7 linked regions of the Homo sapiens genome follow. The gene in region 6 interacts genetically with the main gene of each other region. Each region holds a gene or a part of one and is shown on either strand. Other genes may lie near its edges. The genes, in order: KDELR3, HECTD1, ZC3H11A, KHDRBS1, PRDM4, SREBF1 and ENO3.

Region 1 (2,926 bases), on a different chromosome or scaffold from region 6:
TAATTTTTGAAAGATTATACAGTACACTGCTTTTTTCACAGTGTAGCGTGAGCATTTATATAGAAAACTACTTTTAATTTTTTTTTTTTTAAGATAGGGTCTTGCTGTTGTCACCCAGGCTGGAGTGCAGTGGCATGATCATAGCTTGCTGCAGTCTCAAACTCCTGGGCTCAAGTGATCTTTCCATCTCACCTTCCTTAGTAGCTGGGACTACATACAGGCATGTGCCACTACACCCAGCCAAAAATAACTTTTTTATTTATTTTTTTGAGATGGAGTCTCGCTCTGTCTCCCAGGCTGGAGTGCAGTGGTGCGATCTCGGCTCACTGCAAGCTCCACCTCCTGGGTTCACTCCATTCTCCTGTCTCAGCCTCCCGAGTAGCTGAGACTACAGGCGCCTGCCACCACGCTCGGCTAATTTTTTTTTTTCTATTTTTCAGTAGAGACAGGGTTTCACTGTGTTAGCCAGGATGGTCTCGATCTCCTGACCTCATGAGCCACCGTGCCCGGCCAAAAATAACTTAAATGATAGTTTCATAGTATAAAATCATAATTGAAGCCACAGTTTCTTAAAATCTAGTCATGTTGCCAGGCTCACACCTATAATCCGAGAACTTTGGGAGGCCGAGGTGGGTGGATCACTTGAGGTCAGGAGTTGGAGACCAGCCTGGCCAACATGGTGAAACCCCGTCTCAACTAAAAATACAAAAATTAGCTGAGTGTGGTGGCTCGTGCCTATAATCCCAGTTACTTGGGAAGCTGAGACAGGAGAATCACCTGAACCCAGGAGGCAGAGGTTGCAGTGAGCTGAGATCCTGCCACTGCACTCCAGCCTGGGCAACAGAGTGAGACTCCATCTCAAAAAAATAATAAAAAATTAGTCATGTCCATAAACACCAGCATCAGAATCTCCCATGATGCTTGTTGCCTGCAGATTCATGGGCCACAGTCCAAACTTACTGAGTTGAAATTTCTGGGCCTGGACTGTGCTACAGGGATACAGGGATCTGCTAATCGGTTGAACAGAACGTCTCAACAGCCAGAAGTAGGGCTGTGATGCCTGCTTGGTTTATGGGCATCATGACTATTGAGATGTGCTCATTTCCAACTAAAGCATTGTAAATAGCTTGTCAATTTCTTCTCAACTTATAACTGAAAGATACATGAGTAATGGTCACAGTTGTAAGCAGAAGGCAAGCCCAGGGTCTGGAGGGAAGGATGCAGGGAGCATATTTCCCTTTGAGAACTGGTACTCAGTCCATTCCCTTACCTCCAGCAGAGTGAAACTGTAGTTTTCAAGGAAGGAAAGGCCAATGACTGGGACCAGAAGAAACTCCAGGCGGAATGTGTCATTCTCACTGTCAAAAGTTTTACGGAATTTCCCATATATCATGTACACTGTAACATAGGCACAGAGGAGAAAAACCACCTAAAAGGGGAGAGAGACATGGGAATCGAATCTATGAAGTCATTTCCCGGCCTATTTACTACGCTCCTAGCCTACCAAACCTAAGGGTCAGTGTTCTGCCATAATGTAACATGAAGAGGTTAAATGTGTTTGCAATTTATCTTGGGTCCAGTTGCCTAGAATTTGAAATCAGTGACCCTTTCATTAAATAACTCCATGCTTCTATACTGGGACTGACAGTGCTGCCATGAACAAAGGTGCCCTTGTCGTCCCCTTCATTTGTGGAGCATTAGGTGAAACAGGATTGGTCTATTTCAGGGGATTTACCAGAGGCATTCCAGGGCTCTTGAAACAATTTTAAAACAATTTCCTGGATATGCATCAGTGACTTCTGAGCATTCTTCCACAAGGACTAGCCTTTTTTTTTTTAAATGTTGCCCAGTCTGGCCTCAAACCCTGGGGTCGAGTGATCCTCCTGCTCCAGCCTCCCTAGAAGCTGGGACTACTTATGGCCTGCTAACATCCCTTGAACTAACTGACCATTGCTCCTTCAGAAAAGCTCTCCTAATCACAGTAGCTGTCCTCTGGCATATAATGATTTCATTTTGATATGGCCTCCAACCTTCCAGGCCAGCACTTCTCAAATGAGTGTGCATCAAAACACAGATGCTGCCTGGGTGTGGAGGCTCACACCTGTAATCCCAGCACCTTGGGAGGCCAAGGTGGGCAGATCACCTGAGGTCAAGAGTTTGAGACCAGCCTGGCCAACATGGTGAAACCCTGTTTCTACTAAAAATAAAAAAACTAGCCAGGCATGCATGCGGGCGCCTGTAATCCCAGCTACCTGGGAGGCTGAGGCAGGAGAATCGCTTGAACCCGGGAGGCAGAGGTTGCAGTGAGCCGAGATCATGCCATTGTACTCCAGCCTGGGGGATAAGAGTGAGACTCTGTCTCAAAAAAAAAAAAAAAAAAAAAAAAAAAAAATCACAGATGCTGTCTCTTCCCTTGCCCCAAGAGCTTTTGATTTCATAGGTCTGGATGGGCCTGAAAGTTTGTTCTTCCTTTTTTTTTTTTTTTTTGAGATGGAGTCTCGCTCTGTCGCCCAGGCTGGAGTGCAGTGGTGCAGTCTTGTCTCACTGCAACCTCCGCCTCCTGGATTCAAGTGATTCTCCTGCCTCAGCCTCCTGAGTAGCTGGGATTACAGGCGTGCACCACCATGCCCGGCTAATTTTTATATTTTTAGTTTCACCATGTTGGTCAGGCTTGTCTCGAACTCCTCACCTCAGGTGATCCGCCCGCCTCGGCCTCCCAAAGTGCTGGGATTATAGGCATGAGCCACCGAGCCCAGCCTTAAAAGTTTGTATTTCTAACAAGTTTCCCAAGTGACGCTGATACTGCCGGAGCAGGACCACACTGGCCTAGAGCACTCCTATTTGTACTCCTATTTGGAGTTATTTCCTCGAAGCAGTCTTTTTTTCACTACAATGAGGCACACATTCTGTCGCCATAGCTCCATGT
Region 2 (3,500 bases), on a different chromosome or scaffold from region 6:
GGATCTCACTTACATCCTTACTTATATATCCTTATAGATACAATAGTTAAGTTGTGGATCTGGTGTTTTTTTAAAAAAATAACACAAGTAACTGGTCAGTTCTAGCTGAGGCATACTTTAAAACTGAACCCAACCATTGGATCACAAGTGTGTGAATATATATTTCTTCTAGCCTTTCAATTTTAATACCCGTATTTACTATAGAAAAACACATTTCTTTATGTAGTAATTTCAGAAAACTTTGGATGATTCAAAATGACAAGTACCTGCTAAAGCTCTTAAGTCTGATGACTGCATTGAAATAGTCACATGACACAGTTCTGTACGCTGCAAACATTTTAATGATTATTGTTGAGCATACATTTTGGAAATTTTTTACTTCAAACGGCAACAAGTTAAATAAATGTTTATAATATACAAAGAAAATACAACCGAAAGTAAAACTCGCTGTAAGTGTGCCTTGCACTTAGACCAGGTTTTCCCCCCTTAATACATCTTTATTTTTGAGCTGCAAACACACTTAAGACTTTGATCTTCATAGTATGGCATTTAGGAAATAAAAATATACTCCCACCTTAAAGAAATAAAAAGTTTGGTGCATGATTATATGCCAAACAAAGAGAGAACACTAGAATACTCTTGATAGTGCAGGCATCATTAAAAAGGAAAAGAAAAAGCTTGAGATGCTCATTAATTCTCTATGTTTTAAGGAAGCAGGATTTTTGACCAAGTAGCTTAAAAGCCAGCAAAACAGGGATCAGTGACAGCAACTGTAGTGTATGGAGTATGAAATGACAAACTTTACACAAATACACTGTTAGAAATTTACCAGTGAACACTGAAGATCTGAGAAGCTGCTCTTTGGAACAGTCAAGTGGGACCACCTTATTCCAGTCACATAAGCCCTTGTAAAGTAACACAGTGTTCTGTGCTATATACTTGCTGGCTGGGTAGTTACAGGATTTGTTTTGTCATTAGCAGCTAAAAAACTTATTCCACATGTTCTTAAAGCCTTAATGGTGGAAAAAAAGGCAAGTGTCATTAGCATGGTGGATCATATACTTCTCTGCACACAAACACAAGAGGCTTCACTAGTATTTTTAAAGTCTCTGATGTCTCCCATTGCACTTCAAAGCTCAATTGAGATGAAAGCCTTTCTCCATTGTAGCAGCTAGCAGGCGCTCTCTCATGATCTCCTCGGAAGAATATTCAGGCAACTTAAGGTAATGCACACATGTATTGACTGATGGATAGCTTGCATCAGTAGCATCAACCTACAACAAGAAAGCAAACACAACAGAAGACCATGAGTTTAAATACTTCTTTCTTTCAAAAGTAAAGTAACTAAATTTCATTTGGATTCCCCATTAGCCAGAGAGCTTGTACCTTGCGTACAACCGTGAGCCTGGGATGCAGGTTAGCCAGTCCACCTGGGGGTAGAGTTGAACAACCAGTGGTAAACTGCAAGAATGCTTTCCTTTCATCAGAAGACATGCCACATAAAACCCTCACAAACCTCAGGAAACCAGGGCTAAAAGAACAAAAATATAGTTATATTGAGTTGACTGCAGATTTAAATGAAAATCACTACCACTATTTTCTAAGGCAGCAACAAGCCCCCTAAAAAACAATATCCTCACACCAGAACAACAACACATCTAGAGACTCTTGGTTAAGTATGAAATGGGCTAATATAAGCTACTTTAAAAATATCCCGGGCCAGGTGTGGTGGCTCATACCTGTAATCCCAGCACCTTGGGAGGCTGAGGCGGGTGGATCATCTGAGGTCAAGAGTTCAACAGCAGCCTGACAAACATGGTGAAACCCCATCTCTACTAAAAATACAAAATTAGCTGGGCGTGGTGGCGCACGCCTGTAATCCCAGCTACTTGGGAGGCTAAGGCAGGAGAATCGCTTGAACCTGGGAGATAGAGGTTTCAGTGAGCTGAGATTGTGCCATTGCATTCCAGCCTGGACAATAAGAGCGAAACTCCATCTCAAAAATAAAAATAAAAATCCCTCAAAGACTGTCTTGAACTTACAAATTGTAAGAACTAAAAAATACTGACAGTGTATGGGGTCCATCTATTCTGCAACAAAGTCAGCAAATCATAAAAACACAGGATGCACTTGCAAAATCATTTCAAATATGGATAAATATACCAAAGGGGATCTGAAATAATTTTTATTCCAGCAAAATAATTATCTTGTGATAAATTTATGTAATGAAATAGTAAATGAACGACATGCCACAACATGGATAAATTTCATAATCATAATATTACTCAAACCAGACCACAAAGAAAACAGACTACATGATTTCATATATTAAAAGTTCAAAAGCAAGCAAAACTGATCAACATATGGTGATTAGATTAATAGAAAAGAATATGGTGGGAAGGGGGATTTTTGAAGTTGTTTCATATTCTGGATACCAATTATACAGGTGTGTTCATTTTGACAAAATCCTCTAAACTGTATATATGATGTGTGTACTTATCTGTTATATTCAATAAAAAGTTTAATATAAACGTAGTATATAGCCCAACAGCTTACAATTTACCAAATTTTAAAAATGAACAATTAAAACACAATGAGGAAAGGAATCAACATCAGCCATGATGTCAGTTGTCTTTTTTTTTTTTTTTTTTTTGAGACAGAGTTTCACTCTTGTTGCCCAGGCTGGAGTGCAATGGCATGATCTTGGCTCACTGCAACCTCCACCTCTTGGGTTCAAGTGATTCTCCTGTCTCAGCCTCCCAAGTAGCTGGGATTACAGGCGTCTGCCACCACGCCCAGGTAATTTTTGTATTTTTAGTAGAAACGAGGTTTCACCGTGTTGGCCAGGCTGGTCTCAAACTCCTGACCTCAAGTGATCCGCCCGCCTTAGCCTCCCAAAGTGCTGGGATTACAGGTGTGAGCCACCGCGCCCGGCCTGCTGTCAGTTGTCTTTTTGTATCCTCCCAGCCTTATCAGTGGATATGCATTCTGGTAACTGTGAGACACCACTGCTTTCTCACTTACTTTATGATACTCACTGAATTAAAGTTCTTTAGAGAATCTGTCATTTGATTTGGGGAATATAAATAATTTTGTTGATCTTGGAAAATAGTATCACATACCTGTCACGTGTATAACCCAGCTTAGGTTCAGTGTAATTGATAATATCCTCTGCTGCCCAGGATGGTGACTGGTTTCCACAAAGAATCATTTGGACTTCTTCATGGCTGAAGGAACTTAATTTCTCCATTGGAAAAACTTTATTAAACCCATCTACATCGTACATGTAACGGAAACACAAAAAACAAACATACAACTCAGTTTCCAAGTTACGATTCCAAAATACCAAATTTCAAACCAAAATACCCATTATCAGAATCAATCTAAGTATCTATCAAGGGATGAATGTGTAAAGAAAATGTGGTATATGTACACAATGGAATACTATGCAACCATAAAAAAGAATGGGCTGGGCACGGTGGCTCACGCCTGTAATCCCA
Region 3 (3,500 bases), on a different chromosome or scaffold from region 6:
GCTTGCTGCACCACTCTGTAGTTACTCTATTACCATACGTTTCTATCTTTTTTGGTTAAACACTCCCTGATGACGATGATGGATATATATACATACATCCATATTATACATAATGATATATGTGTAAGGATTTACCTTCGTCTTTATTTTGTGGGCTGGGCAAAATTTAGTGTAACAATAACTTCATGATACTTTGGTATAAGAGTAAGTTCTTTATTTTTATAATGAACCCAAATCTAAAGTCTTTTATAGTGCATTTTAAAAGGGGAAACTTATCCAAATGTTATATTTCTATACATTTTTGTGTATATGTGTGTGTGTATAAGCCAGTTAGTATATATCTGTATGTATATTATATACATAAAACACTATATTTTTACATACAAGTATGCTTTTATTATACAGATAATAAAGATGGGGGAAGGTTTCTGTTTTTTTCTTAATAGGTGAAGAAATCTTGAAGACCAGAAATTGGATCTTACTGAAAAACTGATGTTTTTTTGTTTTTTTTTTAAATTATATTGTTCAGCTATGGAAGATGGAGTTTTTTTTCATGATCCTTTAACTCTCAAGTTCATCTTTAAATGAACTCTTTTTTTTTGTTTTTTTTTTGTTTTGTTTTGTTTTGTTTTTGAGGAGATAACTAACCCTAGCTGTCTCCAGTCTGACAAAGGTTATTTGAATGGACTTAATCTCCCAGTAGTTGGGAGATGTTTTAAAAACACATGCTGTGTTTGAATTGTGGCTGAGAGGTTTTCTTGGCAATGTGAGGAGGAAATTTTTTTCTGCCTCATTATTATTAATTCATGGATTGAGTGTTGGTTCGACCTACAGGCGTAATAGATTGGAACTCAGTGAAGACACAGATGTTCCTGTTCAGAGCAACCAGCTAATGTAAGTGGGGAAGCAGGCATTTTTCGCATGAAAGGAGTGAACATTCTTGTCATTTAAGGCATAATTTTCATGGATCAGTAAGAAATTAAAAGGCCATTGTTCAGACATTTTTGCTTGTACATAATTGTTTACAAATTTTTAGTTTTGGGATGGAAACATATTTTTTTCTTTCTTTTCTTTTTTTCTTTTTTGGAGACGGAGTTTTACTCTTGTCCCCTAGGCTGGAGTGCAATGGTGCCATCTTGGCTCACTGCAACCTCCTCCTCCCAGGTTCAAGCAGTTCTCCTGCCTCAGCCTCCTGGGTAGCTGGGATTACAGATGTGCACCACTACACCGGATAATTTTTGTATTATTAGTGGAGATGAAGTTTCACCATCTTGGCCAGGCTGGTCTGGAATTCCTGACCTCAGGTGATCCACCAGCCTCAGCCTCCCAAAGTGCTGGGATTACAGGCATGAGCCACCGCCTCTGGCCCATAGTTTTTCTTTCTTTGTTTTGATAATATATGTACATTGTAAAAAAGGTAAAAACAGCATAGCCAAAGTGAAATCTTCCTGTAATTCCATCTCCTTGGAGAAAAGCACTGGGTTATTTTGTTTCGTTTTGAAACAGGGTCTTGTGCTCTGTCACTGAGGCTGGAGTGCAGTGGCATGATCATAGCTCACTGCAACGTCAAACCCCTGGGCTTAAGAGATCCTATTGCCGAAGCCTCCTGAGTAGCTGGAACTACAGGTGTGCCCCACTGTACCTGGCTACTTTTTAAAACCTTTTGTAGAGATGGAGTTGCTCTGTGTTGCCCAGGCTGTTCTCAAACTCCTGGGTTCAAGCAGTCTTCCTGCCTTGGCCAACCAGTGTTGGGATTACAGGTGTGAGCCACCATGCCTGGCCTCCCATTCCTTTTTAAATAATGATTCTAGATGATTTTATAATCAAGTTCCAGTAATAAACTCTAATTGGGATTTTGACTTGAATTACATTCGATGTGTGCATTATTTTTTGGGGAGAAGTAATTTCTTTAATCCTCTATTTATTCATTATCCAGGTCTTCTGTGCCTTAGTAGTTTCATAGTGTTTTGGTTTTGTTTTTAATTTAATGTGGGTCTTGCATACTTCTTCATTTTCTTCCTGTATATGTGTTTTTTTTTTTTTTTTTGAGACAGAGTCTCGCTCTGTCGCCCAGGCTGGAGTGCAGTGGCGTGATCTCGATTCACTGCAAACTCCGCCTCCCGGGTTCACGCCATTCTCCTGCCTCAGCCTCCCGAGTAGCTGGGACTACAGGCACCCGCCACCTCGCCTGGCTAACTTTTTTGTATTTTTAGTAGAGACGGGGTTTCACCGTGTTAGACAGGATGGTCTCCATCTCCTGACCTCGTGATCCGCCCGCCTCGGCCTCCCAAAGTGCTAGGATTACAAGCATGAGCCACCACGCCCGGCCCTTCCTGTATATCTTTTTATTGTGAATGGTCTCTTCCTGTATATCTTTTTACTGTGAGTGGTACTCTGCCATCATCTGAATGATTATTGCTGGTATGAAGGAAATTTACTGCTTCTTGTAGATCTTACATTTTTATTATTTTCAATTTGTTTTAGTTGATAGATTTTCTAGTTTGCAAGCATGTAATCTGCAGGTTCTGGATTTTTTTCTTTTTTGCCTCATCTTTTTTTTTTTTTTTGATATGGAGTATTGCTCTCGTTGCCTAGGCTGGAGTGCAATGGTGCTGTCTTGGCTCATTGCAACCTCTGCCTTCCAGGTTCAAGTGATTCTTCTGTCTCAGCCTCCCAAGTAGCTGAGATTACAGGCGCATGCCACCATGCCCGGCTGATTTTTGTATTTTTAGTAGAGATGGGGTTTCATCATATTGGCCAGGCTGGTCTCAAACTCCTGACCTCAGGTGATCTGCCCAACTCGGCCTCCTAAAGTGCTGGGATTACAGGCGTGAGCTATTGTGCCCGGCCTGTCTCGTCTTTTTAATATATGTTTGTAATTTATGCCTTTTTTTCCTTTTGAAAAAATTGAGTAAATAAATGTCCTATTCATCAAATATCAAGAAATATTCATTATTGATTTCAAGATGTAGTATTAAGGAAACCACAGAATCAAAATACCCACTTCTGATACAGTAGTGATTTTTTTTTTTTTTTTTGAGACAGAGTCTTGCTCTGTCGCCCAGGCTGTGGGGTGATCTTGGCTCACTGGACCTCCGCCTCCTGGGTTCAAGCAATTCTCCTGCTTCAGTCTCCCGAGAGTAGGACTACAGGCGCCCGCCACCACACCCGGCTAATTTTTTGTATTTTTAGTAGAGATGGGGTTTCACCATGTTGGCCAGGCTGGTCTCGAACTTCTGACCTTGTGATCTGCCTGCCTCAGCCTTTCAAAGTGCTGGGATTACAGGTGTGAGCCACCGCGCCCTGCCAGAATCAAGTTTTAGTACAAAGAAAGCATTTCCCAAGCAATGAGTCTCAAAGGAAAAAAATAGAAGAGCAATGTAATTAAACTTTCCTTCAAAGAAAGGACAGAAACGTATCTGTTACGGTAAATTTGGAAAGATCAGTATTTCATAGTCCCATAATATGTTTTACATGATGTACTTAAATGCAAATGTATG
Region 4 (3,500 bases), on a different chromosome or scaffold from region 6:
TTAAGTACAATTTATACCCTCAGACACTGGCATGTGGCCTAAAGGTAATAAAAGGGCTTTATGGGTGTCTCAGATGTTCAGTTGTCTGATGGTCTGGTCTTTCTTTTTTCTTTTTCAACTCTGTATGTCTCTCCTTGTCCTTGCTTTCCCCGGAGAGCTAGAGTAGACTGAAATGGGAAGACAAAAAATCAAGGAGGAGCTTCCTAAAAATGGTTTAACCTCAGGCAAAAGTACTTTCTAGACAACCCTTTTGGAACTGACTCCTTTAAGTAATCTTTGCTTGGGTCTCTGGAGACCTTGGATATCCCAAGGGCCAAAGAAAACAAAGCTGAGGTGTAAACAACACAAGAGGTGACCCATTTGTTTCCCAGCCACTCAGAATAATCATATCTTATCCAATGCCTTCTATGCGTCAGGAATTTTGTATTTATTATTTCACTTTGTCTTTGTAACCAGTATTATCTTCATTTGACAGATGAAGAAACCCGGGCTCAGAAAAGCTATATAACTTGTCCAAGATCTCAAAACTAATTAGTGACATAGCAGATACTTAAACCCAAGTCACTTCTTATACCAAAGAAAGTAAATTCAGTTAACCTTTCAAAATTTCCTTCATCTTTTACTATAACTTAACCTTTCCCACCCCCCACTTTTGTTTTTTTTGTAGATTTTATCCCAACCAGACTATAAGCTTCCACGTTGCTTAATATATCTTGGAGGAAAGACAAGGGTTTTGAAGCTAGACAAAGTGGGTTTGATTCCCAGCTCTCCTACATGCTTGGTGTATGACTTTAAAAGAGAATGTTAATAAGAAAAATAGTAAGAAAAAAAGAGAGAGGGCGAAAAAGAGATGTAACTCACACAAAAAAAGTTAATATTAGAGAAGTCTGGGAAAATTATATACCAACTTTATCAACTGGTCTGGCTTAACTAAAAAATCAATACAAATATATCATTAACTGAACTTTTTTTTTTTTTGAGACAGGGTCTTGCTCTGTCACCCACACTGGAGTGCAGTGGCGCAATTTTGGCTCACTGCAACCTCCGCCTCCCGGGTTCAAGCAATTCTCCTGTCTCAGCCTCCCGAGTAGCTGGTGACTATAGGCGCATGCCACCACACCTGGCTAATTTTTGTATTTTTAGTAGAGACGGGGTTTCACCGTGTTAGCTAGGATGGTCTCGATCTCCTGACCTTGTGATCCACCTGCCTCGGCCTCCCAAAGTGTTGGGATTACAAGCGTGAGCCACCGCGCCCGGCCAACTGAACGTTTGATATGGCCTGCATAAGGAACAAGACAATGGTCAAGATTTTCTAAGTATCCAGAGCGAGTATTTCTAGGAGAGCAAGATTCTCAGAACTGCTCTAAAAGGTCAGGGTTCATTTCATACCCTCCTCTAGACTCCCACTATACTTGGTTCTACACTTCTAAACACAGCACTCCTCCTTTGCCTGTTGTTAACAATCTCTGGACTCCTTCCATTGCTGAGTGTCTGTAATTCTTAGTACAGTACAATGCTTGATACACAACAGGCATCTATAATCATTAACCGAATTAAAAGAAATGTACCGGCTGGGGCGCGGTGGCTCACACCTGTAATCCCAGCACTTTGGGAGGCCAAGGTGGGCAGGAGATCGAGACTATCCTGGCCAACATGGTGAAACCCTGTTTCTACTATGGTGAAACCCTGTCTCTACTAAAGATTTAAAGATTTACTCTAGCTAAATCTAAAAACTGGTTGGGCGTGGTGGCGCGCTCCTGTAGTCTCAGCTACTCAGGAGGCTGAGAGAGGAGAATCGCTTGAACCCGGGAGGTGGAGGTTGTAGTGAGCCGAGATCATGCCACTGCACTCCAGTCTCCAGCCTGGGTGACAGAGCAAGACTCCATCTCCTTAAAAAAAAAAAAAAAAGAAATGTGCCGCTGGGTGTGGTGCCTCACGCCTATAATCCCAGCACTTTGGGAGGCTGAGGCAGGCAGATAACCTGAGGTCAGAAGTTCAAGACCAGCCTGGCCAACACAGTGAAACCTTGTCTCTACTAAAAATACAAAACTTAGCCAGGCGTGGTGCCGCCTGCCTGTCAAAAATTAGCCAGGTGTGGTGTCATGCGCCTGTAATCCCAGTTACTTGAGAGGCTGAGGCACAAGAATCGCTTGAACCCGGGAAGCAGAGGTTGCAGTGAGCCAAGATTGCGTTACTGCACTCCAGCCTGAGTGACATAGTGAGAACCTGTTTCAAAAAAAAACAAATACAAAAAAGTATGGTTAACACCCTCAACTTCCCTTAAACAACTCACATGACTTTATCATCCCCAAATTTATAATTCTCAACTTTTCTGTTGGTATCATCTTTTGGAATCAGAAGTCCCATAAGCTTACTATTGCAAAACAACTTCATTTGTTTTATTTATCAAATTACTTATTGTTTCAAGCAAGAGCACAAAGCCAATAGGTTCTTTATTTTTTTTGGAATCATGGGTCCCTCTGAGAATTTGATGGAAGCTACTGATTAGCAACCCAGAAAAAAATATAAACTCATAATATATTATATACAATATTGGCTATGGGTATAGAAAGGCTGGGTATTGGTTAAAAAAAAATCCCCCAAAGGCCTGTTACAAGCCCTTTCATATGGGCTCAATTTTTACATTCCAGGACAGTAGAAAACTCTGTCATATTGACTATGGTCTCCCAAATCTTTTCCTTAGTGCACAATTTAGAGCTTTGCAACTTTGAAAATTTTTTTTTTTAATTTTAAGGCAATTTTAGATTTATATGCAGTTCTAAGAAATAACAGAGATCCTGTATACTTTAGTTTTCCCCATAACATTTTGCATATCTGTATCACAATCAGAAAATTAACATTAAAATAAGAAAATTTGTTGTACAGGTTTCATGGAAAAAAAATTAACAATTGACTTTATTAGGATTTCACCACCTTTACATGTACTTGTTTGCTTAGTTCTATGCAATTTAATCAGACTCATGTGACCACCACCTCAGTCAAGATACAGAACAGTTCCATCATGAGGATCCTTACCCTTTGATAGCCAGTCACCGTTTTCCCTCATCTCTCACCACTGGCAACCACTAATATAGTCTTCATCTCCACTATTCTGTTTCTTCAAGAATGTTATATTAATGAAATCATATAGTATGTAACCTTTTGAGATTGGCTTTCTTCACTCAGCTTAATTCTCTTGTGATCAAGCAAGTTGCTGCATTTATTAACAGTTCCTTTTTTTTTTTTTTTTTATTGCACAGTACTGTTCCACTGTATGGGTGTGCCAGTTTATTGGAGGCATTTGGTTTGTTTCCAGTTTTTGGCTACTATGAATAAAGCTGCTGTGAACATTCATGTACAGGTTTTGTGTTGAGTTTTAATTTCCCTGAAATAAATACCCAAGAATGCAACTGTTGAACGATACGGTAAGCACGTTTTTTTTTTGAGACAGGATCTCACTGTTGCCCAAGCTGGAGTGCAGTGGCACGATCTCAGCTCAA
Region 5 (4,214 bases), on a different chromosome or scaffold from region 6:
TTTTGTAGAGACAGGGTCTCACTTTGTTGCCCAGGATGGTCTCAAACTCCTGGGCTCAAGCGATCCTCCTACCTCAGCTTCCCAAAGTGCTGAGGAGAGAGCCACTGCACTTGCTCCAATTTTTTAATAGTTTGTGATTTTTTTGTCCTATCAAGGTCACAAAGATTTTTGCCTTTATTTTCCTCTGTAAGTATTATGGTTTTAGCTCTTACATTTATGTGACCTGATTTTTATGTTCACCTCTCAACTTAATAAAATTGTTCCAAAAGAACAGACATCCAAACCCAAACCTAGTGAAAGCATTCGGCCGGTAATAAGATACATCATCATTCTCTAGGCTCCAGATTTGAAGTGGCATTTCAGGGAATACTGTCTCTCAGTTGAGATGATGACCTTCTTGATTTAGATTTCTATTTGTTGTCAACAGAGAGCAAAACCAATGTGACCTGCCTGCCAATGTTCAGTGAAGTTTCCTCATCTGGAATGTGCTTTCCCCCCATGAGAAGTAAACGAAGGGAAACATTATGGGGGTTGACACCCCTCCCAGCTCTCGTCCAAAAGGTTGCATGTGCCTCTACCCTTTCACATTAGACTGAATTTTCAAAATTCATCAGTTCCCACTAGACTGCAGGCAGGTGAAGGTCAGGGCTTGTGCCTTGCTCTGTATCCCTAGGTTTGAGATGTAATTCAACAGACGCTTTGTGAATGACAGGAAGAATTCCTGGGTCTGCTGTTCTGCTGGTGTAAGGGAGCCACCAGGCAGTGTGGTGTAATTTCAACGTCTACTGCTCAGGAGCTTGGGACCACCTTCCTTTAAAGCCATCTCGGTACTCCTAGCGTTAGGCACAGTGCCTGGCGCGCAGTAGAGAACTGAGGGCAGAGAAAAGGGGAAGGAAATTTTGTTTAAAATCCCAAACCCCAGCATTTACGACGGGAAGCAGGGAAACTGGGCAGCCTTCAGGTGTAGCAGACGGCCGAAAATATTCAGGATAGAATCCCAATTCCTCCTGGGCAGCAGAGGCAACCCTCGGGGCCAAATCCCATACTTCGAATTTTGGGGGCTTTGTGTGGACCCATGCTTCTCTAGTAGGGGAATGTCATGAAGACGAAATCCTGAGTCTGCGGGATTTAGGGGATTCAAAACTCAATCCCTGCAGGAACAGCAGCCCTGGTCGCCTAGCAACCATGGGCCGATCGCTCGGCGCTCGATTCTACCCGGCCGGATGGAGACGCGGAACTCCCGGCCGAGCCTCTCGCGGCCAGTGCCTCTGCCGTGCGCACGCGCGGAGGGGCCTGGGCTGGGAGAAGGGCGACGCGGTGCGCGGGCGCCGCTTGCGGGCCGCGGCGGGGAGGGCGCACGCACGAGGGGCGGAGCGGCGGGCGCTGAGAGTGGCTGAGGATCCGGAAACGCGCCGCAGAGGGTGCGGCCCAGAGGAGGCCGCGGGCCGGGAAGGGCCGGGCGGGACGGGAAACGTTAGGGCAGCGGCCCCCGGGGTGAGGGGGCCGAGCGGACGGGCAGGGCCCCGAGGCGAACTCTGCCCGGATGAGGAACAAAGCAGTGGGGCAGGCGCGTGCGCCCCCAGCGCAGCTGGCAGGTGGGCTGCGCGCGGGCCCGGCCGGAGCGGGGCGGGGCGCGGCGGCCCGGCCTGCGGGCCGCGGGCGGGCTAATCCACAGCCCTTGGGTGGCGGTGTCGGCAGCGCCTGGGGCTTTCGGGTAGCTGGGATGGGGGCTGCGACCTTGTTGTGGTTTTGGTGACCGCTCTTGTCCCCACTCCCCCAGGTTGGGCAGCCCCCTTCCCGAAGCTTCTGGACGGAAGGCCCCAGGTGTTCCCCGAGATGCCCCAACCCGTGGCGGGGTGCACGGCCACCGGCCCTCGGGAGAAGTTGGGCGGCCCCGGGCGACCCCGGGGACGAGTGGCCGCGTCGGTGCAGCGGTTGTGAGCAAGATGTGGTAGCACGTGACCCTGGAACGCAAACCCTGATGCCTGTTCCCCACCACCCGAGCGCTCCTTTCTCTGATATTTGGCCCCAAGCCGATGCATCACAGGTGAGTAGGGAGGTGGGCTTCAGCACTGGTGACATCGTTGGAAACTCTGGCGAGTGAGTGTCCAGGGTCAGTGCCGTTGTTTTTGGTGCCATTGAGAAGGTTACAGGTGTGATTTGCAAAGGAAACAAATCCAGAAACTAGTGTTGGGTGGAATGTAATCTCATGCATCCTAATTTACTCCACATGTGGAAAGTTGTTCCCAGTAGCCACACGTTTATTGTTGGCTTGTTGACACCTTTTCCTGTGTCTTTCAGTTATTTGAGCGTTTAATATATTTTTCCGGATTCCAACGTGTATTGTTATCTTATTATGCTTCACCTTGAGTTTTGCTGGTATGGCAGGGACGATAGTGAGGGAATTAAGTTCTTAATTCTGCAAGCTTCATGCTGATGTTTAAGTACAGAAGCAGGCCACAGAAATTGTTGCATTTGGCTGTTTTTTCAAGGCCCTTTCAAAGGCCGTATGTTTAGAATAAGGAAGATAAGGCACAAATTCATTGAAATTATTGAAGCCCCACTGCATTTTTCAAAGTGGCTGCATTTCAGTTAGTTTATTATATTTTATGCGAAGAAAAAGGTGTAAAATCAGCAACTGGCAGATGGTTGCATAGGTCAGTTAGAAACACACACATAAACTGTAGAACTGTGTAGGAAATTATTTTACCCTAAATGAGTAGGGAAGATAGAGCTTAGTATCTTGATTCTTGCCTTCTTCCGGGATTGCTTCTTAGAATCTCATAGGAGAAAGAAAATGAGAATAGAACTGCATTTTAGAATGAGAAAGTCTTATGAGGATCATATTGTACATTCCCTTCATCTGCCTTCTCTCTGTGGGATACTCATTACCTTTGGTTTATGGCTGCTGAGGTCATCACGTTTTAGTGACTCACAACAAAGCAGAAATCTGCTGAGCCTCTCGCATTAAACTCTGGTTTGAACTGGTTTGAGAAGGCCTAGGAGTCAACCTAGAAACACCATGCTGATTTTTATCTTGAAATTAAATAAATATTCAGGAATTTTCAGAATGAGAGTTGAAGGTGCAGACTTGTAGTTGTACTTTTAAAAAAATATTGTAACCAATTTGTTAAGTAGGCTGTTACAGCTGTAGTGATTGTAGTGTTTTAATTATGGTTGTAGCTATAAAGAGTTAGGGAAAAGTCTGTTTTAAACCAACTCAAGCCCAGCAACTTTCAAAATTAAGGTAGATATGTTTTCTTTAGGCTACAGGGATTTTTTGCTTTTTTTGTTTTTAAGACACAGTCTCACTCTGTCACCCCAGCTGGCGTGTAGAGGTACAGGCAGAGCTCACTGTAGCCCCGACCTCCCCACTTCAGCCTCCCCTGTAGTTGGAACCACAAGCACGAACCACCATGCCTGGCTAAGTTAAAAAAAATGTTTAGTAGAGACAGGGGTCTCACTGTGTTGCCTAGGGACGTCTCCAAGTCCTGGGCTCAAGCGATCCTTCTGCCTTGGCCTCCCAAAGTGTGGGATTACAGGTGTAAATCACCACACCTGGGCTGCTTTATTTTATAGCATAATAAAAACTGTTATTAGCATGCTGTTCTTCATAAGGTGTACCTCATTTGCCAGGTGCTTCTAGCTGTCTTTCTGGTAAGGGTGATGAGTTTGCATAGCTCCATCCGATAAAATAAGAAAATTCAGAATGTCTGTTCTATACAAGGTACTAGGTTGGCCTTTTACATTTTATTGATGTCTTAGAGCTTAGTTTTATGGGATCCATGGCCAGGGATAAGGGTGAAACCTAATAATGCAAGAAACAGGTCTATGTGGAACTTTAAATATACGCCACAATATAAGTAGATAGGCCCTAATGTATTGCAACTGTGTAAAAGGCAATATAGTTCTTTTATTGTAATTGTCTTTTTCTTACTATAGTTAAGAGCTTTGGTTTCTTAAATTAGTTCTGAATTTAAATCCCAGCTCTCCTTACTGGTTATGTGATTCTGGGTTAAGTTTCCTAGCATCATTGAATCTTAAGTTTCCTCATCTTTAAAGTGGGATTAAGAATAATACCTACCTCCAGCCTGGGCAACATAGGGAGACCCCATCTCTGCAAAATAAAAACAAATTAGCCAGGCATGGTGGCACTTGCCTGTGGTCCCAGCTGCTTGGGGGCTGAGGTGGGAAGATCTCATGAGCCTAGGAGG
Region 6 (3,500 bases):
AATCCTGTGCCAGGCACTGGGGCCATTATAGATGAGGTGGTCAGGGCAGCCCATCTTAGGAGGTGACATCTGAAAGGAGGACTGAATGATATGAGGGAGTGGGCCGGAAGGGAGGGCAGAAGAAACAGTGTGTGCAAAGGCCCTGCAGTGGGCGTGGGCAGGATAGGAGGAGCGGAGGCAGTGAGGGGGTGGAGGCCAGGACGGCCACCAAGGAGCTGGGATTCCAACTCAGGTTGGTCTGTCATCTGAGCCAAGGACCCCAATTCTCCAGGGAATGGGTGGGAAAGGGATTTGCCAATTGATCCCTGCACTACAGACCACAAAGCTGCACCAACTGTGAAGAAGGGTCAGCCACAGGGGAGGATGTGGCACAGGTGCTCATGGGATTCCAGAGCACACCCTCTCGGCCTGCTAATGGAGGCAGCAGGGTGAGGATGGGTGCCCACCATCCCTCCAGGGAGCTGGGCTGCACCCCACCTGCTGTTCTGCTCCCACCAGGCACTTCCTTGATCCTCCTAACTGGAGTCGGCGGTCCTCGTGTTCTCAGCTGGTCGTGTATCCAGCAGTGGCACAGGCTGCCCTTTGTGCACTCATGGCTGCCCCGGGGGCACAAGTGTGTGCCAGCTCTTCCCGGAATGGGACGCACCCATGGCTGGAGCCCCAGGTGCACCTGGGCGCAGGTCCTCTTGAGGAAACTAAGGCTCAGACGGAGGCCTCGTGCCCAAAGTCCCACAGCTGCCATATGAAGAATCTGGTACACAAACCCCATTCTGCGGCCCCAGAGCCTGCCCTTCAGCCCCAGCCTGTGGGGGACAGCAGTGAGCCCCAACTCCGGCCTGCCTCTGCCCTGACCAGCTATCCTCATTTGTCGCAGTTCAGTGAGTGTGTGCAGAGTGCAAAGACAGAGAGGACAACACGAAGCTCTTTAAGGCTCAGCTCCGGCACTGCCTCCTCCTGGAGGCTTCCTAACCACCACCCCCCCAGACCTATCCACCTGCCCTGCCAAATTAGAGGCTGGGCCTCAGCTGGGGGCCCCTCCTGTCAGGGCCTGAACCAGCTGTGACCCCAGCCTCACCCAGCACAGGGCTGACCACAGCAGGGACCCCAGTCAGAGGCCGTGCAGACTCCAGCCATGGCTTCCTCCACCCTCGTCTGCCTCCACCCCCATCCCCTAACTGGTGTCTCCCTGGGCCTCCCTTTCCCTGCCTGCTTTCTGAACACCACAAGCTATTGAAGGCCAGGCTGTTCCCTCCACCAGGAATGCCCTTTCCACCTGGTGAATTCCTATTCCTCCATCAAAACTTGCTCTGATGCCACCTCCCATTCTTCCCTTGTCTGTGCCCCTCCACATGCCAGCTCCCAACATACTGACCGTCTGACCCTATAAACCTCAGAGCCACGTTTCCTCCTCCCCACTAGGCTCTTCCCGGAGCTACAGGTGTGCGGAATTACCCTCAGCAGCACCTGCGAGATGGCAATTACATGTGATGCTGGTCGGCACCAATTCAGACACCTTGTCCGAGAGGTGGCCCAGGGCACATACTTATCACTGGCAGCTGAAAACAACCCACGGGCCTGATGCAGTGGCAATTCTGGGAGTAGCCCCTGCTGCTGGGCACCTGTTTTCAGTCAAAATGGCAGTGCTAAGGTTAGGCGCAGGGGCTCACACCTGTAATAACAGCACTTTGGGAGGCAAAGGCAGGCAGATCACTTGAGCCCAGGAGTTCAAGACCAGCCTGGGCAATGTAGCAAGGCCCCATCTCTACAAAGTTTTAAAAATAGCTGGGCATGGTGGCATGAGCCTGTAGTCTCCATTACTCTGGAGGCTGAGGTGGGAGGATCCCTTGAACCCGGGAGTTCAACATTGCAGCGAGCTGTGATTGTGCCATGGTATTCCAGCCTGGGTGACAGAGCAAGACCCCGTCTCTAAAAACAAACTGGCTCACGCCTGTAATCCCAACACTTTGGGAGGCTAAGGCAGGCAGATCACGAGGTCAGGAGATCAAAACCATCCTGGCCAACATGGTGAAATCCAGCCTCTACTAAAAATACAAAAATTAGCTGGGCGTGGTGGTATGTGCCTATAGTCCCAGCTGCTTGGGAGGCTGACGCAGGAGAATCATTTGAACCCAGGAGGCGGAGGTTGCAGTGAGCCGAGATTGTACCACTGCACTCCAGCCTGGTGACAGAACGAGACTCCATCTTAAAAAAAAAAAAAAATATATATATATATATATATATATATATATGTATACACACACACACACACACTCACACATACACACACACACACATATATATATATATTTCTCCCTCTTGAGTTGTTTCTCTGCAGCTTGTTTTAAAGCTCATATGAAGGCAGCAAGATGTTTTCGAGCTGCCAGGCTCCAGTCTGGAAAAGATAAAGCCCTTTACAACCTTCCCTACAACGTATTCCCTTTCCTTCTAGCATCACCGGCACTGGGTGATGGTCATTGTCTTTTATGTACTTTTGGTGGCTTTGCTTAGTCCCAAGGCTGTGACCAGAACTTTGAAGGTGCTTTCACTCACATTTCCAAGGCTGCCTTGATGTGTTTTGCACAGAAACCGCCATCTGTGGCCAGATGGCCACTCTGCCCGTCCTCCCCCAGCCAGAAACACTGCTTCCTCAGCAGGTTCTTTTTGTTTGTTTGTTTTGAGACAGGGCCTCACTATGTTGCCCAGGCTGGAGTGTAGTGGTATGATCATGGCTCACTGCAGCCTCAACCTCCTGGGCTCAAGCAATCCTCCAGCTTTAGCCTCAGCCTCCTGAGTAGCTGGGACGACAGGCACACTCCACCATGCCAAGCTAATTTTTTTAGTTTGGGTCTCACAATGTTGCCCAGGCTGGTCTTGAACTCCCAGACTCAAGCGATCCCCCTGCCTCAGCCTCCCAAAGTGCTGGGATTACAGGCGTGAGCCACTGTGCCCAGCATCAATTATCTTCCATGGAAGCCAAGGATAGGGTGCTTGTTCCCCATGGCGGGGGGTGCTCCCCACTGGCCTAGTCAGCCCCATCCTGTCTCTCACCAACTCCAGACCACCACATGGTAGATGCTCAGAACTTGGAACCATAGCCTGGTACATCCTAGAAACTTCCAGCACAGGCTCCTTGGGTAATTGCTGCTAACATTTGTTGAGCTAAACCTATCGCGTGCCAGGTACTGGTTAGGTGCTCTAAATGGTGATTTGTTTGTTTTCTCTAAAACAAACAGGGCCTTGCTATGTTGCCCAGGCTGGTCTTGAACTCCTGGTCTCAAGCAATCCTCCAACCTCAGCCTCTAAAGTCAATAAGATTATAGGCGTGAGCCACTGCATCTGGCTAAATGGTGATAATAATAACACTAACTGGCATTGGTTCAGGGCCTACTATGTGCCATGCACTGCTTAAGCCTTCACTCATCGGATCCCCACAATTCCAAGAAGCTGCTTTTAGTACTGCTCCCTTTACATTGTTAAGAACCTGAAGGTTCTTGGACTTG
Region 7 (3,511 bases), about 13 Mb from region 6:
CACCCTACACCCAAATCATATTGAGAGTTTCTTTGAGGCAAAGATCTTGGCATTTCTTTGTATCTTCTTGAGTCCTTCTTAAACCAGTGCCTTCTTGATGAATGGAAACTCTTTGAATTTAATCTCAATAATAATGTTACCATTTCTTGTTACTTACTAGGAGGATTGCATAAGAGCATGGTCTCTAGAGATAGATTGCTGGGTTTGAATCCTGGCTCTGCCTGTTATTAGTTGTATGATTTTAGGCAAGTTCTTTAACTGCTCTGTCTCAGTTTCCCCATCTGTAAAATGGGGGGTAATAACGATACCAATGAATAGAGGTGTTTTGAGAATGAAATGGGCTAATACATGTAAAGTACTTAGTGCGTGGCATGTAGTAAGTGCTATATAAAAGTGTTAGCTATTATATACTAGGCACATGCTAAGAACTTTACATTCAATTTCTCTAATTTTCAGCAAAAGATCCTACAGGGAAGTAGGTGCTATCCCCATTTTACAGAAATGAGGAAAGAGAGGCTGGGCACAGTGGCTCACGCCTGTAATCCCAGCACTTCGGGAGGCCGAGGCGGGCAGATCACAAGGTCAGGAGTTCGAGACCAGCCTGACCAACATGGTGAAACCCCGTCTCTACTAAAAATACAAAAATTAGCCAGGCATGGTGGCACCCACCTATAGTCCCAGCTACTAGGGAGGCTAAGGCAGGAGAATCACTTGAACCCGGGAGGCGGAGGTTGCGCCATTGCACTCCAGCCTGGTGACAAAGTGAGACTCCGTCTCAAAAAAAAAAAAAAAAAAAGAAAGAAATGAGGAAAGAGGCTCTTGAGCAAAACTACTCATCCTAGACCACTGAGCTAGTAAGTAGGGAAGCCAGGTTTCCACCCCAACACCCCCCGCCCCTGTCCCTTCTTGAGCTCTCATGCCCCGGCCCAGGTCCAGACACCCTCTCCCCATCTCAGGCCTTCAATGTGATCAACGGGGGCTCCCATGCTGGAAACAAGCTGGCCATGCAGGAGTTCATGATTCTGCCTGTGGGAGCCAGCTCCTTCAAGGAAGCCATGCGCATTGGCGCCGAGGTCTACCACCACCTCAAGGGGGTCATCAAGGCCAAGTATGGGAAGGATGCCACCAATGTGGGTGATGAAGGTGGCTTCGCACCCAACATCCTGGAGAACAATGAGGGTCAGTGCTGAGCACCCTGGGGGGCAGACCCCCTGGATCTCCACATGGGCAGGGGAGGCTGCAGACAAGGGGCACTGGAGTCTCAGGTCCTTTCTTGGTCCTCCCCCAGCCCTGGAGCTGCTGAAGACGGCCATCCAGGCGGCTGGTTACCCAGACAAGGTGGTGATCGGCATGGATGTGGCAGCATCTGAGTTCTATCGCAATGGGAAGTACGATCTTGACTTCAAGTCGCCTGATGATCCCGCACGGCACATCACTGGGGAGAAGCTCGGAGAGCTGTATAAGAGCTTTATCAAGAACTATCCTGGTGAGGCGTTCGGGTGTCCCAGTGTTCCTGCCCGAATCCCGTGCAGCTGCCTAATATACTGATTTCAGTGACCTGCTTTGCCATCGACTTGGATCCTTCCAATTCTTAGCCCCATTAAAATCCCCATTTAAGCTCTTCTGCCCTGTCACCCCTCCATGAGGCTCCTTCTGACCTCTAGCCGTGTCTCTGCCCTGTCTCTGCCTTGTCTCTGCCCTGTCTCTGCTCTGTCTCTGCCCTGTCTCTGCCCTGTCTCTGCCCTGTCTCTGCTCTGTCTCTGCCCTGTCTCTGCCCTGTCTCTGCTCTGTCTCTGCCCTGTCTCTGCTCCAAACCCCACCAGTGGTCTCCATCGAAGACCCCTTTGACCAGGATGACTGGGCCACTTGGACCTCCTTCCTCTCGGGGGTGAACATCCAGATTGTGGGGGATGACTTGACAGTCACCAACCCCAAGAGGATTGCCCAGGCCGTTGAGAAGAAGGCCTGCAACTGTCTGCTGCTGAAGGTCAACCAGATCGGCTCGGTGACCGAATCGATCCAGGCGTGAGTGCCTCCTGACCCTGAGGCTCACCATAGCCTGCCTCTGCCCCAGCTCTGCCCACTCCAGCTACAGTCTTACCCACCAACTCCAAGCTTACCTTTCCCCTGGCACCTGACTTACCCACACCTTGATCTCAAGACTTTGTTTGACTAATCCTTGGCCTGACTCCAAGAGCTTTGCCCCTGTGGCTCTGTCATGACCCCCCACCCCCAGCCCACACCATTCCTCTCTCAGATTCCGCTGTTCTCAGCAGCATCTCAAGAGCCCGAAATCAAGATAAGTCTTTTCCTCTCCTACTTCCCAAAGAACTTAGTCACTGCCCTCCCTGCAGAGTGCTTGCTACCCAAAACAGAAGGGAGAGGCCCCACCCAACCCCTGCTTTCCCACTGAGGAGGTTCTAGAAGGCCACATCAAATGTCCTCTCCACTCAGGTGCAAACTGGCTCAGTCTAATGGCTGGGGGGTGATGGTGAGCCACCGCTCTGGGGAGACTGAGGACACATTCATTGCTGACCTTGTGGTGGGGCTCTGCACAGGACAGGTACTTGTAGCTTCTCTCTACTGAGTGTCTCACCAAGTTTTCTTGGGGTCCCTGGCCTCCTGCCTTTGAGGTTAATGCTCCCTTGGGGCCAGGTCCAACCCCTCCTTTCCAGCCTCACCTAACCCTCCAAATTCTTCTTCCCTCATCAGATCAAGACTGGCGCCCCCTGCCGCTCGGAGCGTCTGGCCAAATACAACCAACTCATGAGGTACAGCGGGAACAGTGGGCCTGGGCATTGGGGTGCTGGAGGCTGTTAGGTTGGAAGTTCAGCAGCCCTAACCTTGCCTGCATTCTAGGATCGAGGAGGCTCTTGGGGACAAGGCAATCTTTGCTGGACGCAAGTTCCGTAACCCGAAGGCCAAGTGAGAAGCTGGAGGCTCCAGGACTCCACTGGACAGACCCAGGTCTTCCAGACCTGCTTCCTGAAATAAACACTGGTGCCAACCAAGACAGCTGTGTGCTTCTTTGTGGGAGCTAGGGGATGCTGGTTTCTGGGCTGAGCTGGGGAAAACAGGAGGTGGCGAGATGGGGGCGGGGAGGGGAGGCAAATAGATATGTAACCTGCTAGGACAAAGAGGAGGTGAGGGACTCACAGAGGAAGCTGGGTGGTTCTAGAACAACAGAGGTGTTCACATTTCCAAAGGAGGTAGGGGAAGCAGATGCTATATGGTAAAATGAAGCTGCAGAGTTGCCAATGGAGCCGGGCATGGTGGCGCTCGCCTGTAGTCCCAGATACCTGGGAGGCTGAGTTGAGAGGATCGCTTGAGCCCAGGAGGTTGAGGCTGCAGTACACTATGTTCGTACCACTGCACTCCAGCCTGGGCTGCAGAGCAAGACCCTGTCTCAAAGCAACAACAACAAAAAAAAACAAAAACAAACAAAAAAACTAAATAAAGAGTTTCAGAGGGAATAAGAAACCAGCTCCAGGAGAGGGGAGCAGGGTGGGGA

The links.
Region 1: changes in SREBF1 (region 6) and KDELR3 together harm fitness more than expected from each alone (negative genetic interaction), as found in Homo sapiens cells (one large-scale study listed by BioGRID).
Region 2: changes in SREBF1 (region 6) and HECTD1 together harm fitness less than expected from each alone (positive genetic interaction), as found in Homo sapiens cells (one large-scale study listed by BioGRID).
Region 3: changes in SREBF1 (region 6) and ZC3H11A together harm fitness more than expected from each alone (negative genetic interaction), as found in Homo sapiens cells (one large-scale study listed by BioGRID).
Region 4: changes in SREBF1 (region 6) and KHDRBS1 together harm fitness less than expected from each alone (positive genetic interaction), as found in Homo sapiens cells (one large-scale study listed by BioGRID).
Region 5: changes in SREBF1 (region 6) and PRDM4 together harm fitness more than expected from each alone (negative genetic interaction), as found in Homo sapiens cells (one large-scale study listed by BioGRID).
Region 7: changes in SREBF1 (region 6) and ENO3 together harm fitness more than expected from each alone (negative genetic interaction), as found in Homo sapiens cells (one large-scale study listed by BioGRID).

What each region holds. Positions count from the first base shown.
Region 1 is NC_000022.11:38,478,096-38,481,021, reverse strand, and holds part of KDELR3 (ER lumen protein-retaining receptor 3), read right to left. Parts: intron 1,430-2,926; coding exon 1,271-1,429; intron 1-1,270.
Region 2 is NC_000014.9:31,099,794-31,103,293, forward strand, and holds the end of HECTD1 (E3 ubiquitin-protein ligase HECTD1), read right to left. Parts: intron 3,274-3,500; coding exon 3,123-3,273; intron 1,532-3,122; coding exon 1,387-1,531; intron 1,275-1,386; coding exon 1,137-1,274; 3' UTR 324-1,136; downstream 1-323. UniProt on the Homo sapiens protein: E3 ubiquitin-protein ligase which accepts ubiquitin from an E2 ubiquitin-conjugating enzyme in the form of a thioester and then directly transfers the ubiquitin to targeted substrates.
Region 3 is NC_000001.11:203,802,123-203,805,622, forward strand, and holds part of ZC3H11A (zinc finger CCCH domain-containing protein 11A), read left to right. Parts: coding exon of another isoform or gene 1-70; 5' UTR 71-894; intron 895-3,500. Other genes in the region: uncharacterized LOC128031836, read left to right, coding at 1-70. UniProt on the Homo sapiens protein: Through its association with TREX complex components, may participate in the export and post-transcriptional coordination of selected mRNA transcripts, including those required to maintain the metabolic processes in embryonic cells.
Region 4 is NC_000001.11:32,020,368-32,023,867, reverse strand, and holds part of KHDRBS1 (KH domain-containing, RNA-binding, signal transduction-associated protein 1), read right to left. Parts: intron 1-3,500. UniProt on the Homo sapiens protein: Recruited and tyrosine phosphorylated by several receptor systems, for example the T-cell, leptin and insulin receptors. Once phosphorylated, functions as an adapter protein in signal transduction cascades by binding to SH2 and SH3 domain-containing proteins.
Region 5 is NC_000012.12:107,758,338-107,762,551, reverse strand, and holds the start of PRDM4 (PR domain zinc finger protein 4), read left to right. Parts: upstream 1-1,414; 5' UTR 1,415-1,595; intron 1,596-1,780; 5' UTR 1,781-2,036; coding exon 2,037-2,047; intron 2,048-2,583; exon of another isoform or gene 2,584-2,780; intron 2,781-4,159; exon of another isoform or gene 4,160-4,214. UniProt on the Homo sapiens protein: May function as a transcription factor involved in cell differentiation.
Region 6 is NC_000017.11:17,826,987-17,830,486, forward strand, and holds part of SREBF1 (sterol regulatory element-binding protein 1), read right to left. Parts: intron 1-3,500.
Region 7 is NC_000017.11:4,954,119-4,957,629, forward strand, and holds the end of ENO3 (beta-enolase), read left to right. Parts: intron 1-956; coding exon 957-1,179; intron 1,180-1,288; coding exon 1,289-1,486; intron 1,487-1,823; coding exon 1,824-2,025; intron 2,026-2,454; coding exon 2,455-2,563; intron 2,564-2,712; coding exon 2,713-2,771; intron 2,772-2,859; coding exon 2,860-2,929; 3' UTR 2,930-3,011; downstream 3,012-3,511. UniProt on the Homo sapiens protein: Glycolytic enzyme that catalyzes the conversion of 2-phosphoglycerate to phosphoenolpyruvate. Appears to have a function in striated muscle development and regeneration.